Linked DNA regions of Homo sapiens: regions 1, 2 and 3 are each linked to region 4. The links come from fine-mapping of genetic effects on gene expression. A gene starts in region 4. Each other region holds a variant in brackets. All regions are shown on one strand. Distances are from middle to middle.

The links. PIP is the estimated chance that this variant, and not a neighbour inherited with it, causes the effect. A credible set is the group of variants that fine-mapping cannot tell apart.
Region 1: its variant is the best candidate, but not a certain one, in a credible set for the expression of SEMA3E in sigmoid colon (GTEx, PIP 0.88).
Region 2: its variant is the best candidate, but not a certain one, in a credible set for the expression of SEMA3E in lung (GTEx, PIP 0.81).
Region 3: its variant is the best candidate, but not a certain one, in a credible set for the expression of SEMA3E in lung (TOPMed, PIP 0.60).

What each region holds. Positions count from the first base shown.
Region 1 is chr7:83,676,064-83,681,221 of GRCh38, forward strand. No RefSeq gene overlaps it. Among named protein-coding and RNA genes, the nearest start is that of SEMA3E, 30 kb to the left of the region's middle. The variant T/A (reference allele first, on the strand shown) is at 3,102.
Region 2 is chr7:83,531,993-83,537,150 of GRCh38, forward strand. All of the region lies in intron 1 of SEMA3E (semaphorin 3E), which reads right to left. Among named protein-coding and RNA genes, the nearest start is that of SEMA3E, 110 kb to the right of the region's middle. The variant C/A (reference allele first, on the strand shown) is at 1,947.
Region 3 is chr7:83,554,314-83,559,471 of GRCh38, forward strand. All of the region lies in intron 1 of SEMA3E (semaphorin 3E), which reads right to left. Among named protein-coding and RNA genes, the nearest start is that of SEMA3E, 92 kb to the right of the region's middle. The variant C/T (reference allele first, on the strand shown) is at 2,619.
Region 4 is chr7:83,645,888-83,651,045 of GRCh38, forward strand. It overlaps SEMA3E (semaphorin 3E), which reads right to left and starts at 3,252. Exons shown (of 17, transcript NM_012431.3): 1 at 2,541-3,252. The coding sequence starts at 2,655.

The DNA.
Region 1 (5,158 bases), 30 kb after region 4:
ACAATTTATGTCTGTGACTTAAAAATTATGTATCTTTGAAAAATAACTTCAAAAGCACAAGAAAAAAAAATCACTGTAAGTTCAAGTTGAATATTTGAATATTAATATGGGCCAACCTACCTATTCATTAATTTCAGGCATTTTTGTTAGCTTCTCTTTGCCCACTTAATTCTGAGCTTGGTTTACAGCTAAATTTTCTTCTACTTACTGGTTCATCATCTACAGAGGACATCTCTGTACCTAACACAGTGTTAGCATTTCTTATTCTGCTTTAGCCTTTCAATTGCAACAGGATTATTTGGTTATATTCCATATGGAAGTAAAATTGGGCTTTTTGTTTTTTTTTTACTTAATGAACATATTCTAACTCTATGTCTATCAACATTCCTTTCTATTTATTTTTACTAATTCTATAAAATTATAAATTTTATGCATTCAAAATTTTTATACACAAGAACACCATTTAGCTTCTGTTGGTATCTGGTCTTATTCTTTTACATGTTAAGTCGATTTCTCTTTGAAGATCTGTTTTAAATTTCCGGTAAACGTGAGACACCTGAATGGGTAGCATAAGAAACTGATTATACTGCTTTTCTTTATACAATATTATATTTCCTGGGAAATGAGCCAGAGTCTGATCTAACTCATCTCTAGTACTTTGAATATTCTACCACATATTGCCTTGCAAAATCTTCCACAAACAGTAATAAAATATATTCTTCCTAAATAATTTGATTTCTATTCAAATATATTTGCAGATCCTAACAATCCTATAGAACTCTAAGTTAGAGTGAGAAGAGTTTTAATTTCTTTTTTTTTCAACTCCTAAATTGTGACCAAAGGCTTTTTTTTTTTTTTTTGCAAAGTTACTATTCTTAATGAGTTTAATTTTTTTTTTCCTCTTCTTTTTCTTCCACGTTAGAATGTGCTGTTAAATCAAGTGTCCAGGTGCAAAGGTGGTTTCTAAATGAAGAGTTAGGGTAAGTTTTTTCCACTTTTTGTAATTTAGGATTGGGCTCCCAGGTTGATTCATACCTCTAAAAACAGCAGAATTTATTTTTTGCTTTTCTAAGGCAGAAGTCACTTCGACAATTTTTAAAGTGCTTTAAGTGACTACTTTAAACAACCTGCAGACTAAGGAAGTTCTCGTAGCTCTGGAAATGGAAACAGCTGGACTAGTTCAGTGGGGATGATTCAGCCTGAGTCACAGGCCCACACCCAAATGGAAAGTGTAAACCCTGAAGGCCTTAGGGGATCCCTAGAGCCAGGAATCCCCTCTGGGACCTACCACAGTCTCTGGACTGGCTCAGGTTTCAGTGATTATTTTTAGCTCCTCTTTATTTATCCTATGGTTCTCCATCCTTTTCATCATAATTTATAGTATCCTTTATTTACATTTCCAATAAGTACTGGTGAGTATGAGTAATTGCAGAATAAATTAAGATATGTCCAGTGGACACTTGACATGACACAACCCTAAAGAAAACATCAACCTACCCCGTATCTTCACTTAGTCTAAAAGTCTGGAGGAGTCCGGATATTCTTGGAGTCCCCAGAGGCAACAGCACTTCATGTTTAACTTATAGGCAAGCAGACTTAATGAGATACAGCATACAGGATACACAGCACATTTCCCCGCCCACTCAAAAATACTTTCATAAAAACAGTGACCAGTGTTTACTCTGGCCAGGAACTCCAAAACATACCCTTTGGGCTTGTTCTTCATTAATATATCACAACTGCTCTGTGAGATGGACATGGTTATTATCTCCATGCTCACACAGCTCATAATTGGTGGAGCCAAAAAATGAACACAAGATCTTTGACTCCAAAGCCCAAGTTCTTACCATTTATGATGACTAAAAACCAGTTGTATGTTTTTTCCTGAATATATTCAACAAACTTGTGTTGAGCAAAAACTGTGTTCAAGCACTGTGCTAGTTACAGAGAATTCAACAATAAATAAAACTGACAAATGACATAATGGACTTACATCTCATGAGGAAAGTAAATAATACAAATGAGTAGAATAAATTGTATTGTGTAAATGTGATAAAGAAAAAACTCAAGAAAAGCAAGTGGGGTCATTGAGATGATAACATTTAAATCCTATGATTAGTAATGATCTTTGCGAGAAGGTGATAATTAAACCAAGAACTGTAGGAGGTGAAGAAACAAGCCCTTCTCCATCCTCAACCAACCTAGCCTCCAGGGAAAATAGCATTCCAGGCCAAAGGGACAAGTTTAAAGGCTGTGAAGCACCTGGGAGCATTGCTAGAATGACCCAAGAAGAGCAAGAAGACAGATGGGTTGTAGTGAATTGACAAGTAGGAGAGGCTAGGAAAAGATGAGACCTGAGAGAGAATAAGGCAAAGAAGTGGAGGCTTCTTGTCAGACGAGAATAAAAGCAATTGTCTTTCAAATAGAGTTGAGACATAATCTGATTTATGTTTTTAAAGGGATACTCTGGCTTTTGTATTGAAAACAGACTGGGAACATAAGGAGAGAAGAACGATCAATCTGGTATACCTGTTAGGAAACTGTTACAATTCAGAAAAAAAATAATGTTTGCTTGGACCAAAGAGAGTATTGAAACTGATGGAAAATGATTGATGTACGTATTTTATAGGTGGAACTGATAGAATTTGCTAATCAATTGTATGTAAAGTAAATAGCTGGGTCAGGCCTGAACATTTGGAAGAATGGAGATTTATTAGCTGAGATGCAGAAAGCAGTAGGTGTAGTAGGTTTAGGTATTTTGCTAAGCATATATAGTGAAGAAAGAGAGACAAGAGAGTAGAGAGAGTATCCAGAAAAATGATCATAAAGATTGACCATAGACTGTCACTGGGCTGCAGAAGAATGATCAAGGTGGACTGGGAGGGGAGTGTAGAGGTGGTAGGATCAAGGGCTGTAGGTCTGTGTGAGGCTGCAGGGTTGCTGGAGTCAGTACTGGAGGGGTGAGGAATTTAATCAACACCAACTCTAGATTCCTGAAGTCAAAAAACTTATTAGAACATGTCCTAGCAGAGCTCTTAAGAGAGGCTAGCTTCTGGGACTCTCCTATAGTCTATTTCAATATTAGCTTTAGATAACTTTTT[T/A]AAAAAAATTATTAATTTAAGGGCTGAATGATTTTCTAATTATCTAAAAATTAAAGTCTTCACCACTTAATATTTGAATACTTTATAAGATAGGATTTGCCTATTTGGGATATATTTGAGAATTCCCAGAATAAAATAGATTGTCCCATGTTAGCAGTCAAAGCACATCTTTGGGCCATGAGTTACCGTATTATAAAAAGATTTCAAAATGAAATAAAATGTATTAATATAGAGATTAAAGGTTAATTATTAATTTGTGTTATTTTCAAAAATAGAACACACATTCAGAATTTAAAATTTTCATATTAATCTAATGATTGGCAATCTTTTATGAAATCATTTTACCAACATCACTTAATTCTTACAAAGTAGATTATGATAAAATTATATTTTCCTAAAGTATATTTTTAAAATAAACAAATGTGAATAGTTCATATTCAGACCATACAAATACTTTATATGTATAATTCAGACCATACAAATACTGTATATATATAACCAATCTCATAGGAAGGGGGTTGGATTCTTATCTCCGTATGTTTAATTTGAGATACCAGATAGCTCACCTTTCCAAAATATGACCTCCCCGAGCACTGAAATATAAACGACTAAATCCATTTCTGTTGTGTGTCCAAAGATCCCTAGTTCAAAACCTACACATTACTTTTGAGGTTTAAGATACCCCCAATTTATTTTCTATTGTCATTATCTATTAATAAAGCAGAAAAGTCATGGAGAAATTAAGCATTGATCAAGTAAGCTTTGTTGGAGCATATGGGAAGAAAAAGATCTCAAGAAAAAGAAATGGGCTGGGTGCAGTGGCTCATGTTTGTAATCCTAGCACTTTGGGAGGCCGAGGCAGGTGGATTGCTGGATTGCTTGAGCCCAAGAGTTGAAGACCAGCCTAGGCAATGGGGCAAAACCCCATCTCTATAAAAAACACAAAAATGAGCCAGGTGTAGTGGTGCACACCTGTAGTCTCAGCTATTTGGGAGGCTGAGGTGTGACGATGACTTGAGCTTGAGAGGCAGAGGTTACAGTGAGCCAAGCCTGTGCCGTTGCACTCCAGCCTGGGACCCTGTCTCAAAAAAAAAAAAAAAAAAAAAAAGGAATGACCTAAGGGAGGCAGTTCCCAAGTGAGATAATACAAGGACAATGTGGTGTCAATGAGTTGAGATACTCATTTGGAAGAAGAAAAGAAAGACAACATTTCTACCTTTTTTTTTTTTCCTTTTTGAGACAAGGATCTCACTCTGTTGCACAGGCTGGAAGGCTGGAGTGTGGTGGCATGATTATAGCTCAACCTCCCGGGCTCAAGCAATCCTCCCACCTCAGCCTCTTGAGTAGCTGGGACTACAGACACATGCCACCTTGCTTGGCTGTTTCCCTTTTTGTGGAGACAGAGGTCTCACTATATTGCCCAAGCTGCTCTTGAACACCTGGGCTCAAGCAATCCTCCTGCCTCACCATCTTAAAGTGCTGGGATTACAGGCATGAGCCACGGAGCCCGTCATTGTTTCTACTTTAACAGTTAACCTCATCAACATTAGTAGCAATTCTTTTGATTAAAATACAGCAGATATATTTTTTATTAAATGATTATGATCTTGGTTTAAAAAAATTTTTTTAGAAAAGCAAACAAATTACATAATACCTTTAATGATAAAGGTATAAAGAGACTTTCAGCCATATGTATTTCTGTAACAATGTAAGTGATTATTTTTGTAATGGAAAGAATATATTTTTGGAGGGGAAAGGAACATACATGTTTAATTTTATGAATAATGAAGGTGGAGTAAAGGCCAAGAAAACTTATTATTATGTATAAAAATGTTATTTCAACATTATTATTATCTACAAAACCAAAATGGATTTAATTAAGGTGGGCAAGGAAGGACATATTTTAAATGAAAGAATTTTCTTATGCCTAAATTGGATACTAAAAACATTCAATACTGTTTATCTGTATTATTTTATTAACTTTGAAAATTATTATTATATTGTCATTCATTTACATCCTGATTTAAAGAAAAGTTTTATAACTATTTTTGGAAAAG
Region 2 (5,158 bases), 110 kb before region 4:
ACAACATGTGATAAACGTGACTTTTTAAAGTTAGCATGCATTGCTGACTGTTATTTCTGGGTAAAACATGTATAAATTAGGGAAACTTGAAGGAGATAGTTCAATGCAAAAATTTAAGACAACATTAAAAAAATTAGGAATCTTTTTAGATTTTAAGGTTTCTTCATTTCAACACCTCTTTATTTTTCTTGTTATATTTTTCTTGATTCCTTATTTTCTTGGGATTTGAGAACATAAAATGGAGTTAAAATGCTCTTCTCACATTCTGGAGAGATAATTGGCAGATAAGACTTTAGGAAATCCATACTCCACTGTCTTTCCTGTCCAGAACTGAATATTCTCAAAGTGATTTAATATTTATTTCCCTTACTACAGTATGGAAGTGATGAGGACACACACCAAGATGACTCATTCTACTTTTAGAGAGAAGCACTTAGTAGTGACTGGCACATCACAGGAATTTAATCAATAGTCTCTGAAAGAATTAATGAATAAATGTGTGACTGGACTGCATTACACTGTACAGTACAGCGGGATGTAACCCTTTCCTTAAGAAGAACGTAAAGACAAATGTATTGCCCTGGTAAAAACACTCCATAATCAGGAATCTTGAAACCTGGGATCAAGTTTCTTCTCTGTGCTTACTCTTTCTGACTTATTCTCTCAATACTTCAATTTAATAAGCAACTGAAACAAACCAACCAAAAAAAAAGGGCAGATAATTTTATATGATCTTGAAGTCTTTTCCAGTTTTGAGATATAATCTGACTGAAATTATTTCCTGTTTTTTTTTTAAAAAAAGAAAGAAAACAGCAACAAAAAACAAATATGAGGCTTTATCTTGCTTCAACCATTTGTGTGTGTTTGTTAATTAATTAACACGTGATGTGATCTGTAATGTAAGAAATTCTCACCACGGGAACTCTCATCACTAAAGATGTTCTACATCTTTAATAAAGATGAAGACTAAGTCCAAAAGATAAAATGATTAATGTTTACATGGTTTCCTCATTCACCTCCCTCCACCCCACAAATCTCTAGGATTCCTTTATCCCCAAAACACTGTGTCATCACAAGTCACTCTGTAACCCTTCTTCTGTATCTTTCTCTCCTCCTCCTTCTCCTCCACCTGTACAACTGACATTACCTAAATTTCCTTAGGGTATCATGTGCAGTCCCAGAAGTTACAACCTAAAAGGGGAAGTTCCCTTTTCTCATCTTAATTTCTGTTTGAAACATACTTGGAATTAAAACAAGCAAAACAGGGGGCCAGGTGCAGTGGCTCATGCCTGTAATCCCAACACTTTGGGAGGCCAAGGTGGGCAGATCACTTGAGGTTAGGAGTACGAGACCAGTCTGGCCAACATGGCAAAACCCCATCTCTACCGAAAAAATACAAAAATTAGCCAGTCATGGTGGCAGGTGCCTGTAATCCCAACTACTAGGTAGACTGAGGCAGGAGAATGGCTTGAACCCGGGAGGCGGAGATTGCAGCTAGCCAAGATTGTGCCATTGCACTACGGCCTGGGCGACAGAGTGAGACCGTTTCTCAATAAAATACGATAAAATAAAATAAAATAAAATAAAATAAAATAAAATAAAATAAATGAAACAAGCAAAATCATGAGGCAGTAGAATAGAGGAAATCAGAATTAAATGCCACAGAAGTCCTTCACCTGAGACAAGACAGGGAGGTGAGGAGATTCAGGTCCCTACTGTGCCTCCATCTGAAACTTCCTTACGTTTTATTATTGTGCTTACCTGAGATCTGAATGATTGCAAATAAGGAGGAGGAGGAAAAGTAGAAAGATATTTGGAATTGTGGCTGGCTGGCTGGCCCAGGCACAGCTGACTGGGAAGGTCCTTCCCTGCCTGCCTTCCCAGCTGTGGTTTAGGCTATTGTCCTAAAGAGGAACTCAGCCATGATTGCATTTCAGGGAGGGCTT[C/A]TTGCCTCTAGGACTCTCCTCTTTATCCCAAGTTCTAGTCAAAATTCAAGTATTGTTCTAAATAGCATATCATATGGGAAGAAAATGAAGTTTCCATTTTTAAGCTTCTGCCAATTCTATTTAATTTGGAGCAGTTTTCAAACTTTTTAGACCATGCCCAGAGGTAACAAATAGATTTCACTTAGCAATCAGTATACACATATATGTGTAATATAAATCTGAAAACAATGCTTCCCAAAACAAGAGTTACAACACAAAATAAATACTGATATTTTCTGATTTATTCTATCTCATTTTTAAAAAAATACTGGCTGGGCCAATTACGTCTGTTGGGAGCAAGGCTCAGGCATTAGGATTTTTTTGAAGTTCTCGCCTTTGATTCCCATGTGTAGATAACTTTGGGAAGCACCACTCTAGAGGTTTTTCAGGTGAATTCTCTTGGGTTTCTAAGGACTATGGCTTTACCATTTATAAATAACAGTACTTTTTATCTTTTCATTTACAATCATTATATATTATATTTTTGTCTCTTATTGTATCTTAGAATTTTAAGAATGATATTAATAGAAATAAAAGTAAAAATCTGTTTTTAGAAGCTGGTCTATAAAATTGATTTCACACCCCATTAAATGGTCACAATTCACAGTTTGTAAATAAGCTGGTCTACAGGAAGAGTCAGTAAACTATGGCCCATGGGACAAAGCAGGTCTGTCACTTGTTTCTATAAATAAAGTTGTATTGATCACAAACAGCCACATCCATTCCTTAATGTATTATCTATGACCACTTTCCTGTAACAATGGCAGAAATGAGTAGCTGTGACAGTGACTGGTCCACAAAGCCTATAAGCTCTTTATTATTTGTCTTTACAGAAAGCCTGCCAATTCTTTGTTTAATGTAAGTTTTTTGCATTGGAGGTGAAGTAAAGAGGTTGGAAAAGGAATGAGGATCTAAATCATGAATGGTATTCCAATCTAGTGATAGGATTTTATCCTCGGGGCAATAATAAGCCATTCCTCTGCAGGAATCAAGCTCCCTTCTAATCAACGGTCTCCCACTGTGTTCTGAAACCCTGAAAATGGCACTCTTAGGCAGGAATAAAATTGTTTTGTTTCTTGTGCATTTCCAGGCTCCAATGGTTGGTGTTCTCTGTAAATATGCTAAATGTGAAATCAGCCTTTGCCTAATTTTGAGTGTGAATCTGCTGGAATTTTTAACTTCCTATCTATTTTTAGATAAAGACTCTTACTGAGTCTCATCAAAGAGTTTCATAGCTTGGGACTAGGTTCACTGGACCATTTGACTCCACATAAATTTGGCTTTTCCTTGCTTTCTAAGGAGGGGTGGTATTGGGCATCAACCATGCTTCCTGCCTGAATCATTTGCTGTGCTTTTGTCAGTACATAAAGTAAGCAACAAACCCATGCAATTAAACATGACCAAGAGACCAGTTTTAAAAAGTTACTTTTTTTTCAAGCAGGTAATATTTCATTCATTCACTAAGGAGACAGGGCAAACATTTATACAATCTATCAAATATGTTTTGCTTAGGTAATCACAGCAGTCACAGAATTCTTAATGGTAATTTAGAGTCTATTCACACTTGCCTCAAAGACAGCATTAAAGAACCTATCAATGACCCTGAGAATCATTACTAAAGTCATTATTGTTCTGATATTACAATCCAAAGCTGCATGTTTATACCTTTTTATAATCTAAGAAGTATGGCCAAAAGAAAATGCTTGAGGTAAAAGATCTCAATTACTTTAATATTTTATTTTCTTTACCAGGTGGATTTTGTTAACAAGAGGTTAGAAAATTAGAAAGATCTTCACCACATGCTTAGAAATAAAGATCTTGTAAATAGTTTATAAAAAAATGCAGTGGGAAAAATTTCAAACCTAAATTATTATTAAAGCTGCACTAAATGTGAAGAAAATAAAGGTGATTTCCAAAAAGAATGGTTAGGTGTCAAGAGTGAGAAGTGAAGAATGTGGAAAGATTAATAAAACCAAGCAGGATCTCGTTAATCAAACTTCCCCAAGTGGCACAAATGATTTGATTTGAATTTGCCTCTATATACACCAATGATGGAATCTGCTGTTTTTGTGAAGCAGCCAAAATGTCTACTTGATAAATGGGGTAATTCTTTCAAAAGTACCTATTCTGTTGTTTCTTTTATATGTTGATGATGTACACAGTAAAACTAAGATTAATTATTTGCTAAAAATATAAATAAAGCTTTGATCACTTTTACCAGCTTTTGATTTTTTTTAATGAATTGACCAAATAACATCTTTAAACTGAATCTCCGTTTAAAGGGTTGAACATGCAGAGAAATACCTCTGCATGGAATGAATTTAGTTGGCCAGGAGAATGTCTTAGACCAATGAAAATAATATGTTTCTCATGTCAAATGTTAAGGCTTTGAATAATAACAATTTTTTAAAATAGTACAATTACCTATACATTTTAGGTCTAATATAAATGTACCTGAGGAAAAATTAGGTTAATATTTCTCCTAAATGGCACCTTTTCTCATCATTCTCTTGAAAAATATGACAAAGATTTGTGTTCAAGTCTACCTAAAGCAAAACAAGTAAAACAATAAAAGAATCAAGCCTACAAACAGGCTGGTTGGACTTTTTAAAAATCAGATATATTGAGATAGTTGTTAAAAAACACATCACAAAAGGTACAATAAAACTTTGGGAAGATTAGCTAAATGAATATAAATATTAAAAAAACAAAACCAGACAACAACATAAAACAGCATTCTTAATATTGTTAATAATATCCTCAGTGACAGTGACCTCATTGGCATCTTGGCGAAGAAATAATTTTTGTGGCCAATTTTATCACAGATTTTCTGTAGAAATATCCAGTATTTAGTTTCCATTTTATTCAAAGTTATGTATTGGTATGGACTGAATTGTGTCCCCACAAATTTTGTATGTTGACACCCTAACCCCAAATATCACTATATTTGGAGAAAGGGCTTTTAGAAAGTAATTAAGGTCATTAAGGTGGGACTTTAATCCAATAGGATTGGCAACCTTATGAAAAAAATCTTTCTCTGTCTCTCTCTCTCTTCTCCCCCCTTCTCTCTCTCTCTCACTCTCTCTCTTTCTTCTCTTCCCCTCTCTCTTCCTCTCTTCCCTATGAGGATACAGTAAGTAGGCAGTCATCTGCAAGCAGGAAGACAGCCCTTT
Region 3 (5,158 bases), 92 kb before region 4:
TCAAACTTCAAATAGTAAGCAATGGAAAAATGAGTCCTCATAGAAAAGTTGAAACCAAATGACTTGAAATGAGGTAGCACTCGTATTCCTCCAGGCCTTTGGGTAAAGATACGTGCACGCAATACTGCTTTCGATTTCTACATAGAGCTAAGACAATCTTTCTGACCGTTCTAGAGATGTAGACACATTCAACAAAATTGGAGAGGAAAAGATGATAGGGGCAGTTTTTTTTAACCCAGTGTACAAAAGAGTATGTCAACAGTTTCCAAATGTAGTAATGTAATATCAAAAGAAGAAAAAGTCTCCTTTGAATTTTTCTTTTCAATTACAGAACATTTACTTTATAACAAGATTACTAACACTTTAAAGACATGTGCTTCTCTCTGGGTGCGGTGGCTCACTACTGTAATCCCAGCACTTTGGGAGGCCGAGGTGGGCAGATCACGAGGTCAGGAGATGGAGACCATCTTGGCTAACACGGTGAAACCCCGTCTCTACTAAAAATAGGAAAAAATTAGCCTGGCGTGGTGGCGGGCGCCTGTAGTCCCAGCTACTAGGGAGGTAGAGGCAGGAGAATGGCGTGAACCCGGGAGGCGGAGCTTGCAGTGAGCCAAGATCAGACCACTGTACTCCAGCCTGGGTGACAGAGCGAGACTCCGTCTCAAAATAAATAAATAAATAAATAAAAATGGAAAAAAAAAAGACTTGTGCTTTTCATAGAAACAATTCCATTTAATAGAAACAATTTAACTATAAGTGCAGGAATTATTCATTATAGAGAATAGGTGCAGTCTTGAATTTCATTAAGTACTGCTTTTCTTACTATTATTTATTGTAGACCAAAAATGCATTTTACCCAAAAATAAAAAATAAAAATTCGCCCTGACCTGAGATATAGAAGTAAATCCATCTAATGCTAGCTTGCTTTCTGCATCAAAAAGTTGAAGTGTCCCAGACGTCACCAGTACATAATATATGCATGTAACACAACTGCACTTGTGCCGCTAAATCTATTTTTTAAATGTTGAAGTGAATTGATGTGTTACTTTTTTCTTTTTTCTCTCTCCCATTTAAATAGGCTTAAAAAATAAAGCACATGGTAGAAGTCACAGCATTTAATTGTCTCACCATAAAGATAAAAGCATGTGTTTTATTAGATAAAATTGTCACATCCTGGATTATTCCTACTCTCTATGCTATTCATCTACGACTTTCTCCCACTAGAGGCAAACGTATTTTCCATGTCTACAATGAGGCTTAAAGAAGTTGAGGTAAAGTGTGATTGCGATTTGCCCATCTCTTGTTACAAATCAGCAAATCAATAGACTCCTAATATTTGGAGAAAAAAGGTACCTAGAAATGCTCCAGCTTAATTCTTTCTAACAATTGGATCTGTCTGGCATCTTCATGATGCCTTCTAATTTTTTTCTCTGAACATACTAATTTATTTTATACTTTAGCAAATTCTATTTGCTGTTCCTTGATTCAAATTCATGCTCGGTAGCATGGGTCAGCTCATTATTATCCTCTCATCCATGGACATTTAAGAACTAAGAATGTGGAGACCTTACTAAGGAATTTCCACACAGAGAGGGTCTATGTCATACCTCCAGCATTTTCTCTGACAACCTCTTTTTCAAACTGTATACTTTTTAACTTCTGTTTTTGCTCCATATAATTGCCCTTAATCCAAATTCTAATAAATGAGAAAGCACTAACTGCATTTTCTCTGTTCTCTTTCCAGTATAACAGGAAATGTTCATAAACATTTATATGTTTACATTATATGTTTATGAACATGTTATACGTTTTTATATGTTCAGAAACTTACTGATTTTCATGTAGGTAACATGAAATTGTTTTTTAAAAAGGACATTCTCCCTCCACTGCCTGCACTTACCTTCGCTTTTTGAGATAACTATTGATAATACTTTAGCATATATCTTTGGAAAATATGCTTTCCAGGTTGCCAACGACTTTGCATAGATATTACATATGTCCATGCAAATAACCTGTATTATCAACACTAAATGCCTACTGCTAGTATTAGTCATTCATTCAATAGCTATATATGGAGCCCCTTATTAAATGCCAGGTCGTTTTAAGAGTCATAATACATTAGTGAACAAAACAGACAATGATTCATGCTATCATGTATGTTACATTTCGTGAGAAAATTGTGTTTAGAAAAAGACCTAGACATTGAGGGGCCAGGGAACAAGTTGTCAATTTTAATGACTATATCTTGTTTAATATAGTATAAACAGTGGAAGCATTTGTAGGTACAAGTAGCAGGCATGCCATAATGGTGTAGATTGCCATCTGGGGATCTCAAGTAAATTATTATAAGATGCAAATTTATAATCTGACTTAGGAATTAGTTTACTGCTACAGCTTGAATGTTTGTGTCCTCTCCAAAACTTACGTTGAAACTTAATCCCCAGTGAAACAGTATTAAGAGGTCTGGTCATTGGGAGGTCATTAGGTCATGAGGGTTCTGCCCTCATGAAAGGATTCGAGCCTTACAAAAGGGCTGGAGGAGACAAGTCAGGCCCTTTCTGGCCCTTTTACCTTTCCATCCTCACCTTGGACTTGTGAGGACACAGTGTTCAAGGCAC[C/T]ATCTCAGAAGCAAAGACTAGGATCTTACCAGACACCAAACCTGCCAGAGTTTGATCTTTGACTTCCAGCCTCCAGAACTAAGAAACAAATTCATGTTCTTTATAAATTACCCAGTCTCAGGTATTTTGTTATAGCAGCATAAACCAATTAAGACATTTACAGAGTTTATAAATTACTGAATAAATGTAAGGAATATAATATATTGAAGATCAAAAGTCTTATGTCAAAGTATTTTATTTGAAAATGAATATTCTTTTTATTACTAAATTTATGTAACAAGTATGTTTATAATATTTCTTCAATTAAATGCTTTGGCATTAAAATGAACCTTACTAATTTTTACTGTACAGATAAAAGGAATTTATATGAATCTATAAAAATATATAAAATAAAAATTATTACTATTATGCTTATTAAAAATAAGTATCAACATAAATATTGATCAATAATTCAAACTAATTAACAAAGCACATCAAAATAGGATTTTATTTTAATCAATGCTCTTATTATGGTAAAACAACTAAAATTAATTTATAAACGTTTCAGTGTTCATTATTTCCAATGTAAAAATATTAAAGGAAAACCAGTTGCCAAAGATCTTTTCATTAATATTTTAAACTAATATTAGTTATTTGAAACAAAGCATTAGTTAATATTTGACAAGGTATTCAAAAAATCATTTCACAGGTTTTTATAAATTAAAACAATGAATTTAACTCTATATTATGTCAGTAAAGATGCTAACAATTACACAAAGAAAATATATTCCTCCTTCCTACCGATTCTTTAGAAGAATGAGATTACTATTATCAGCAGCTTATGTCTCGACTTCAGCCTAACAGCAAGCTAGCTCAATGTGCATCCCTCTAAGAATTGCTCTAAGAATTATACTTGGAAGAAGGTAGGAAGCAAACTTCAGTTTTATTCCTAGGTATAGGACATTAGCACTTTGTCCAAAATGTACACAATAGGCTTCCAAAATATTTAGCTTCTCATTTGCACATATGCCCAAGAAAGGCTGTAAAACCCAGTACAATGGCTTTTCTATTTGAACATGATCCAGAAGGATAAATGTTCCTTCTGTGTACCCAGGTTATAGGAAACATTTGAGGACCTTTTCCAATTAAGTTATCCATTGATTTGTTGTGTAACATATATTCCTAATAATAGCTTTCATAATATTTGTAATTTAACAATCTGGGAGAGGAGATACAATGTAGTAAACAATTTCAGTAAATGGTGGGGCAAAGCCTTGAGATAACTAGAGATGTATATATATTTTTTAAAGACAAAGATTGGAAGAAATCACCAAAGATGCCATGTTCTGCCACATTGCTGTGAGCAATGATTCAAATAATTATGTATGTGAAAAACATACCAGCCTTGATTTTTCAAAATGCACATTTTTCATATTGTTTGAATTTACAGGAACTGGCACCAAGGTTTTACTGAATAATTTTGTGGTCTACTGTGCTACTGGTATTTGGTTTCAAAAGACAAATACAGGGGTGCTTAAAGAGCATTTATTTAGTAATTTCTCTTTAAAATTTAAACTGTGTCATTTCAGGAGGAAAACAGAAATAAACATCCATTTTTCAAAAAGTACAGTTGTCAAATTATGAAGGAAGAAGAAAATAATAGACCTATTAATATCAGTAAAGATGTATTCCAGATGCATTTTTAAAATTATGGTTACATTTCAGATATGAACCAACTATTTTAGTATATTTTAATAAAAATATGGCTAAGAAGCAATGCTACAATGACAAACCACAATAAAATGAGATAATAAAACTACTTTAACAACCTAATATTGAAAGATTAAAACTCCTACCTTAAGTGTTATTAGGAATAACTAATAGTGTGTCATGTCACTACAAAAATCAAATTTTTAACAAATACAAATATTTTAGTGAAAAAAGAAATACAATATAAATCAAATATAAGATTTAAATTTGGCTCCCCTTTTTGCTTTCCCTAAATGGCTAACTCTAGCTAACTCATCAATTGAAAATGATGTTTTTTGACCTTTTTCAGTCCATACATTTCAAATAGAGTATAATTTTAACCAGCTACATTGTTGGCTGAAGATTAAAAACCATTTTGGTGTTGTGTTAATTATAAATAAAGCACCAATAATTGGTGCTCATCTTTGACTGGATCAATTTTGATGTAGCAGGAACAGTATTGGACTTGGAGCTGAGAACAAGTCCAAATCTTTGCTAGGACAGTTGCTAACTGCAGGAGTTCAACAAAGCTACCTGCTTGAGCCTTGGTTTCTTCTCCCATAGAAGGATAGCTTTAACAAATGGTATTTGACAAGATTGAAAGGTGATATATACAAGGCTCCAGCATTGTGCAACCATAAAAAGTCATGGAATGGAAGTCATCTTAAATGTTTTGTTATATCCATATTTGTTTTAATATTCTAAGTATTATTACTGTCAGGAAATAACACTTTTAAAACAGGAGAAAAAATAGTAGTGTCAGACATCTCACAGAAGAAGGTATTCAGATGACAAATGAGCAAACGAAAAGA
Region 4 (5,158 bases):
TTTTATATAATTTAACTCACGCTCTGTATATGATAAACTTTCTCCTCCTCCTTGGGAAGAAACAATAGGCTTGTGTTTTCATCTTAAAAGTGAAGAATATGAGAAAAATGCCTGCCTTTCTCCCATACAGCTTAGATCATTAACTGTGAAAAGAATTTCTGAATTATTCTAGTAGGCTATCTCCAGGGAGCCTCCTGGATTTCCTTGCTAGTGGTCAGGCAGCGGTACAGAGATGCTATATGACATATACCTAGTGCCTCTTATATTGAAAGATTATATACTCATTTAAATATTAATTACTTAATTCACTCGCTACTGAACACTTGTCGTTACTGACATTAGTCAAGTCAGCAAAAGATTAATCTGTAATATCTTATTCCTAGTTTTTGAAGACTTCTAAAATATTCACTGAATTCCAGAGTCTAGAGAGATAAATGGGCTGTTCATATTGTATTGGTGGGACTGAATATCCCTCCTCTGACAGTATATATGCTCTTCTTTTCACTGAGGCCCCTGAGGTGCAGTAGGCATTTGCTGCTTCAGGTAGCATCTCCAGTGTGATCTCTTAACTGACTTTACTAACTAAATTGCACAAGTAGGAACATTCTATTTTCAGGTAACTCTCTCTATTCTGCCTTTGTATAAAAACATCATATTGTGCATTTTCAGCTGGTTCCATTAAATTCAAAGTTAAGGGAAATCCTGTGGGAGTTTTCAGTCTATTGTACATATAGATACTAGCGGTTTTACTCTCACACCATATGACACCACTCATAACATCAGTTACAATTATTTCTTTGAATATAAGTGACATAATAAAGATGAACTCGATAATAGTATTATGCATAACATTTACTTGTATCAGAGAACTTTGGTATTTTTTGATCAAATTATTAACTCTCTTATGAAATATTAAAATGTGACCTGTTGGAAAACACACTGATATTGAACCATGAAAACACAAGTACCCCAATAATAGGGTATAAAATGTTAATACTAGATATAACAGAATTGTAGCTTGCAAAAACTGGCAGCTTATCTACTTGTCTACATAAGAAAAACAATCAATTATATTTTTTTGCATTTTTATTTGTCCATATTCCATCACATCAAATTTGTACATGTTGACATCTTTGATGATAAACTTCTTAGAAATAGGCATTTTGATACATACCATGATACATCTTCCCAAGTTAAAAGATTAGTGTTAATTCTGGGCACTATATTTTAAACACTTTACCAATTTAGTATCAATGGATTTCTTAAATTTATATTATCTACTGGATAGTATTATAGGAAATCTATTTAAACTAAGAAAACATCCACTATTCTAAAAATGAAAAAATTTCTATAGTCAACATTTACTGAAGATTGTCCAATAAAAAGACAAAAAGGCCAAACGTGTCACATAAAATTGAGGACTCCCTTTTTGTTTCTCCTGATAAATATTCTACCTGTACTTAGAAAATACAAGCTTCTGTTCTTTCTACAGTGGGGGACAATTTAAAAGCTTACACAATTGAAAAATGATTCTTATGTAATCCTGAGTATTACATCTGCTATCTGTCTCAATGTGTCAATGGCTAGTGATAATAAATACTTCTTTGCTGACAATTTATTCCGAATTTATATTAAGTCAGCAAAGTCACTTTCTCTGAGCATGGTTTTGTTTATTATTTGTTTGTTTACAGGAGGAATTACCAAACCTATTCATGACTGGCTTGTATTGGTCCTGATGCAAAATCTATCTTTTAATCATTTATTTATGAGTATGATGTTGCTTTACAAGACAATTGTAGAATGAAATATTTAAACATTTGCTGTTAGATCTTCATTAAGGCAATATAAATTTACACTACAAATGCTAGTGAATACTAATACTTTAATCCATATTAGCCATTTTACAAGCATTGTCATAAACTATTTTCCTTTGCCACACATGAAAAAATTCTAATAATCAATTCAACTGGAAAACTAATTTATATTAGTTGTTAATCATTTTAATTACATGATGATGACAGTTATGGGTAGGGCATCATTTTTCTCCTCGGGATTTTTATTTTCTCCTCTTACCTCCATTATGGAAACAAAACAAAACAAAAACAAAAAGAACAAATTGCACCCCTATTTCTATAGCCCTTTCCCAGCATCCTTGTTTCTCATATGCATAAACTGATATTTAAATATCTACTGTTAACTTGGTGGATTCAGCCTCTCAAGGCTATTTTCAACCTGCTTCCTCCCTTCCTGTGTTCCGCGGGCTAGTGAGTGAACTCCTTATTGATAAAATCCAATGTTTACAGACAAAAATAACATCTCTAAGTTGACATGTGATTTTGCACTGTTTTCAGATGAGGTGAGTATGACACATTAATCAGAGGTACTTAGAATTTTAGGTCAGTTTTGCAATAAATTTTTCAGGTGCATTTTAAAGGTCTTTGAAGACCATAAGCCTATGTTAATGTTAAACGACTTTTTTTTTCTTTTTTCTTTTTCTTTTTTTTTTTTTTTAAACAAAAGGATCTGGAAAGGTAACCTACCTTTATGTGACAGGCGTAACCGGGGGTGGGTAGTATCAGCTGTATGACCTCCTGTCCAAAGCTCCAGTAAGTAACCCCACAGGAGCAAGGTGATAATGTGCCCCGCGGATGCCATGCTGCCGTGTTCACCGTCCAAGCCCTCGCTCCTCACTTTAAGGAGGGTCTGAGTTTTACTTAGGACTTCCCTCCAGGGGCAGCGTGCGAGAGGCTTTGTCAGAAATCGAACGCGTTGTCATCAGAAAGCACAGTTCCGAAGTGCCATTTGTCAGGCTGTATTTGGCTATGTAAAACCTTTCTTTCCTCGGGACAGTTGTTTATAAGCCGGGAGCAAGAGGACATTCCAAAGAGTGAGTCTTCAGAGCCATGTCCTGTCTAGAGCGCTCTTCAGCAACTACGCCGGTAGATTCAGGAAGAAGCTGTATTTTTCAGTCACTTGGGCAAAGCTGTTCATTCAGAAAAAAAAAAAAAAAAGAGAGAAAAAAACAAAACCGAGCACACGCACTCCCTTCTCCCGTGGAGGTCCTCTCTTCGGGCTCCTGGAAGCCTCTCAGAAGTCAGCCTCTTGCACTGACTTGCCAAACTGCTAGTTTTAATTCACCTTTCACCTTGCTAATTAAAAACAAGAAGTGCCATTCCCTCTAGGAGTCGCAGGATCCACCCAGCAGGGATGCAGTCTGTCAGTGGCTGTTTACAGGAAAGTTCAGGCAGGGTTGAGCAGCGTACTTGCTGTTTCTAGGAAGTATTTCTGGTCCACGTGCCTCGCTCCCATCCTCCCTCCCAGTCATAACCAGCCCCACGTTACTCAGCAGCAGGAGAGAAGTCCACATTTTGATGGGGGAAATGGGGAGTTCGGGAGGGGTGATGACATAGACTGATTATTTAAGAATAGGTGACAGACAAGGATGTGGCATCAGAAAGCGCTTTTAAATTCTTACCAAGATAAATTGACCTAAGTTGAATAAATCCAACTTCTTTTGAAAATAATCTATTTGTAACCATCCAGAATCCAAATTCTGTTTTTCACTGTTGCCATAAGGTTTTTTTCAAAATTAAGTCTTTTTCTATTGCTTATATCTTAGGGATGTTATTTTTAAACTCTTTTAAGAAAAGTGTGTTTCAAGAGCCTGAAAAAAAAAAGTTCATCTGTGACTGTCTCATAAATTTGATAGAAATGATAAATTATTTACTTAAGCAAATTGGTCAAATGAAATTAAAGGCAAATCCTTTGTCCTAAAGCAATTCCTAAATTTTACTTCAAATTTAGGAATGTTGAAGTAATTTCCCCCAGGTAAGGTAACTGGCAAAGTTGAGATTCACCACCCAAGGGATTTCTATAAAGCAGGTATTAGAAAACTTAGGATGTGCAATACCTTAGGATTCAACTGCTATGGACTTCCAGAGTTGATTTTCCAAGGCACTGTGTTTGTGTAAATAAGCTTAACACAATAGGTCAACTTTACAATCTACCTTCAATCAATCTCAAAAACTAAGCCAAACACTCAGGAGCTGTTGGCATGGAAATGAATGGTATTATGTTAAGATACCAATAAACTTGAATAGATATTTGATTTGATAGTGGAGAGTTAAATGGTAAACACTGATCTCAACTATGATAACTTTTTCTTATTCTGTATTTTAAATGCTAATAGTTAAAAACTTTTTGAGAATTATGTTTTAAAATCACGAAACTATAACAAAAAGATAACATGTGTCACCCTGATATTTTTGCATTATATAGAAGCATATGTACAGCCAGGCATTCTCTACCCATTTTTCTAATCATGAGATGTTCTTGTACAAGCAGAGTATATTTAGCAAAATGTAAATGTCACTGGACATTATAAATAATTAGATTTCCAAGGTCTACAAAAGATAGCAAACTCTAAACATTATTTAACAGTAAAATGACATGAAGTTATTTAGAGACTTTTAACCTGGAATGCTTGCATATTTTAAAAGCCAGTCTGATGAGCTACAGACCTAAAGGTTGCTCTAAATGTGATACATTGTACCTTCAAAATTCTCTTTTGCTTTCTTCTAGGATGGAAACAAATGACAAAATAAATAGCAGCTCTTATATGTGTTATCTAATAGTAGGATTATAGGAAAAGTAAATGTGGTGCCTACACCTTTTATTGCAAATTCATGGCTACTCTCACATAGCTGAAATTCTACTTAAGATTGCATAGTGCCTGTCCTAACTCTACTATAGAACTGAGACAATGTGAGACATTACAATCATTTCATTAGTACACAAAATATGCACCTCTAAAGTGTTGACAAGAGAATATATGTTATGAATGCCAAGATCTGTCTTTGGTTTTACATCTCATCCTTCAGATTAAGTTGGAGCAATTTAGAAGTAAATGCCAGAATAATGGGTTGTTTAGATTCCTCAAAATGTGCTTTGGCTTATCTGCCAGTTGTCAATGTCCTTACTTATTTCTTTTAACTACTCTTTATGTCCTTTTACCTTTATCTTTATCCTATAGAAAATATATAGATGATGCCAAAAAATGACTGTTAAGAAAACTATCTATAGTCTCAGTTTCCCCTATGTGGCATTAGCAATGGAATAAAGAGTCTTTGGGACCAAATTAGTCACTTACATCATAAAA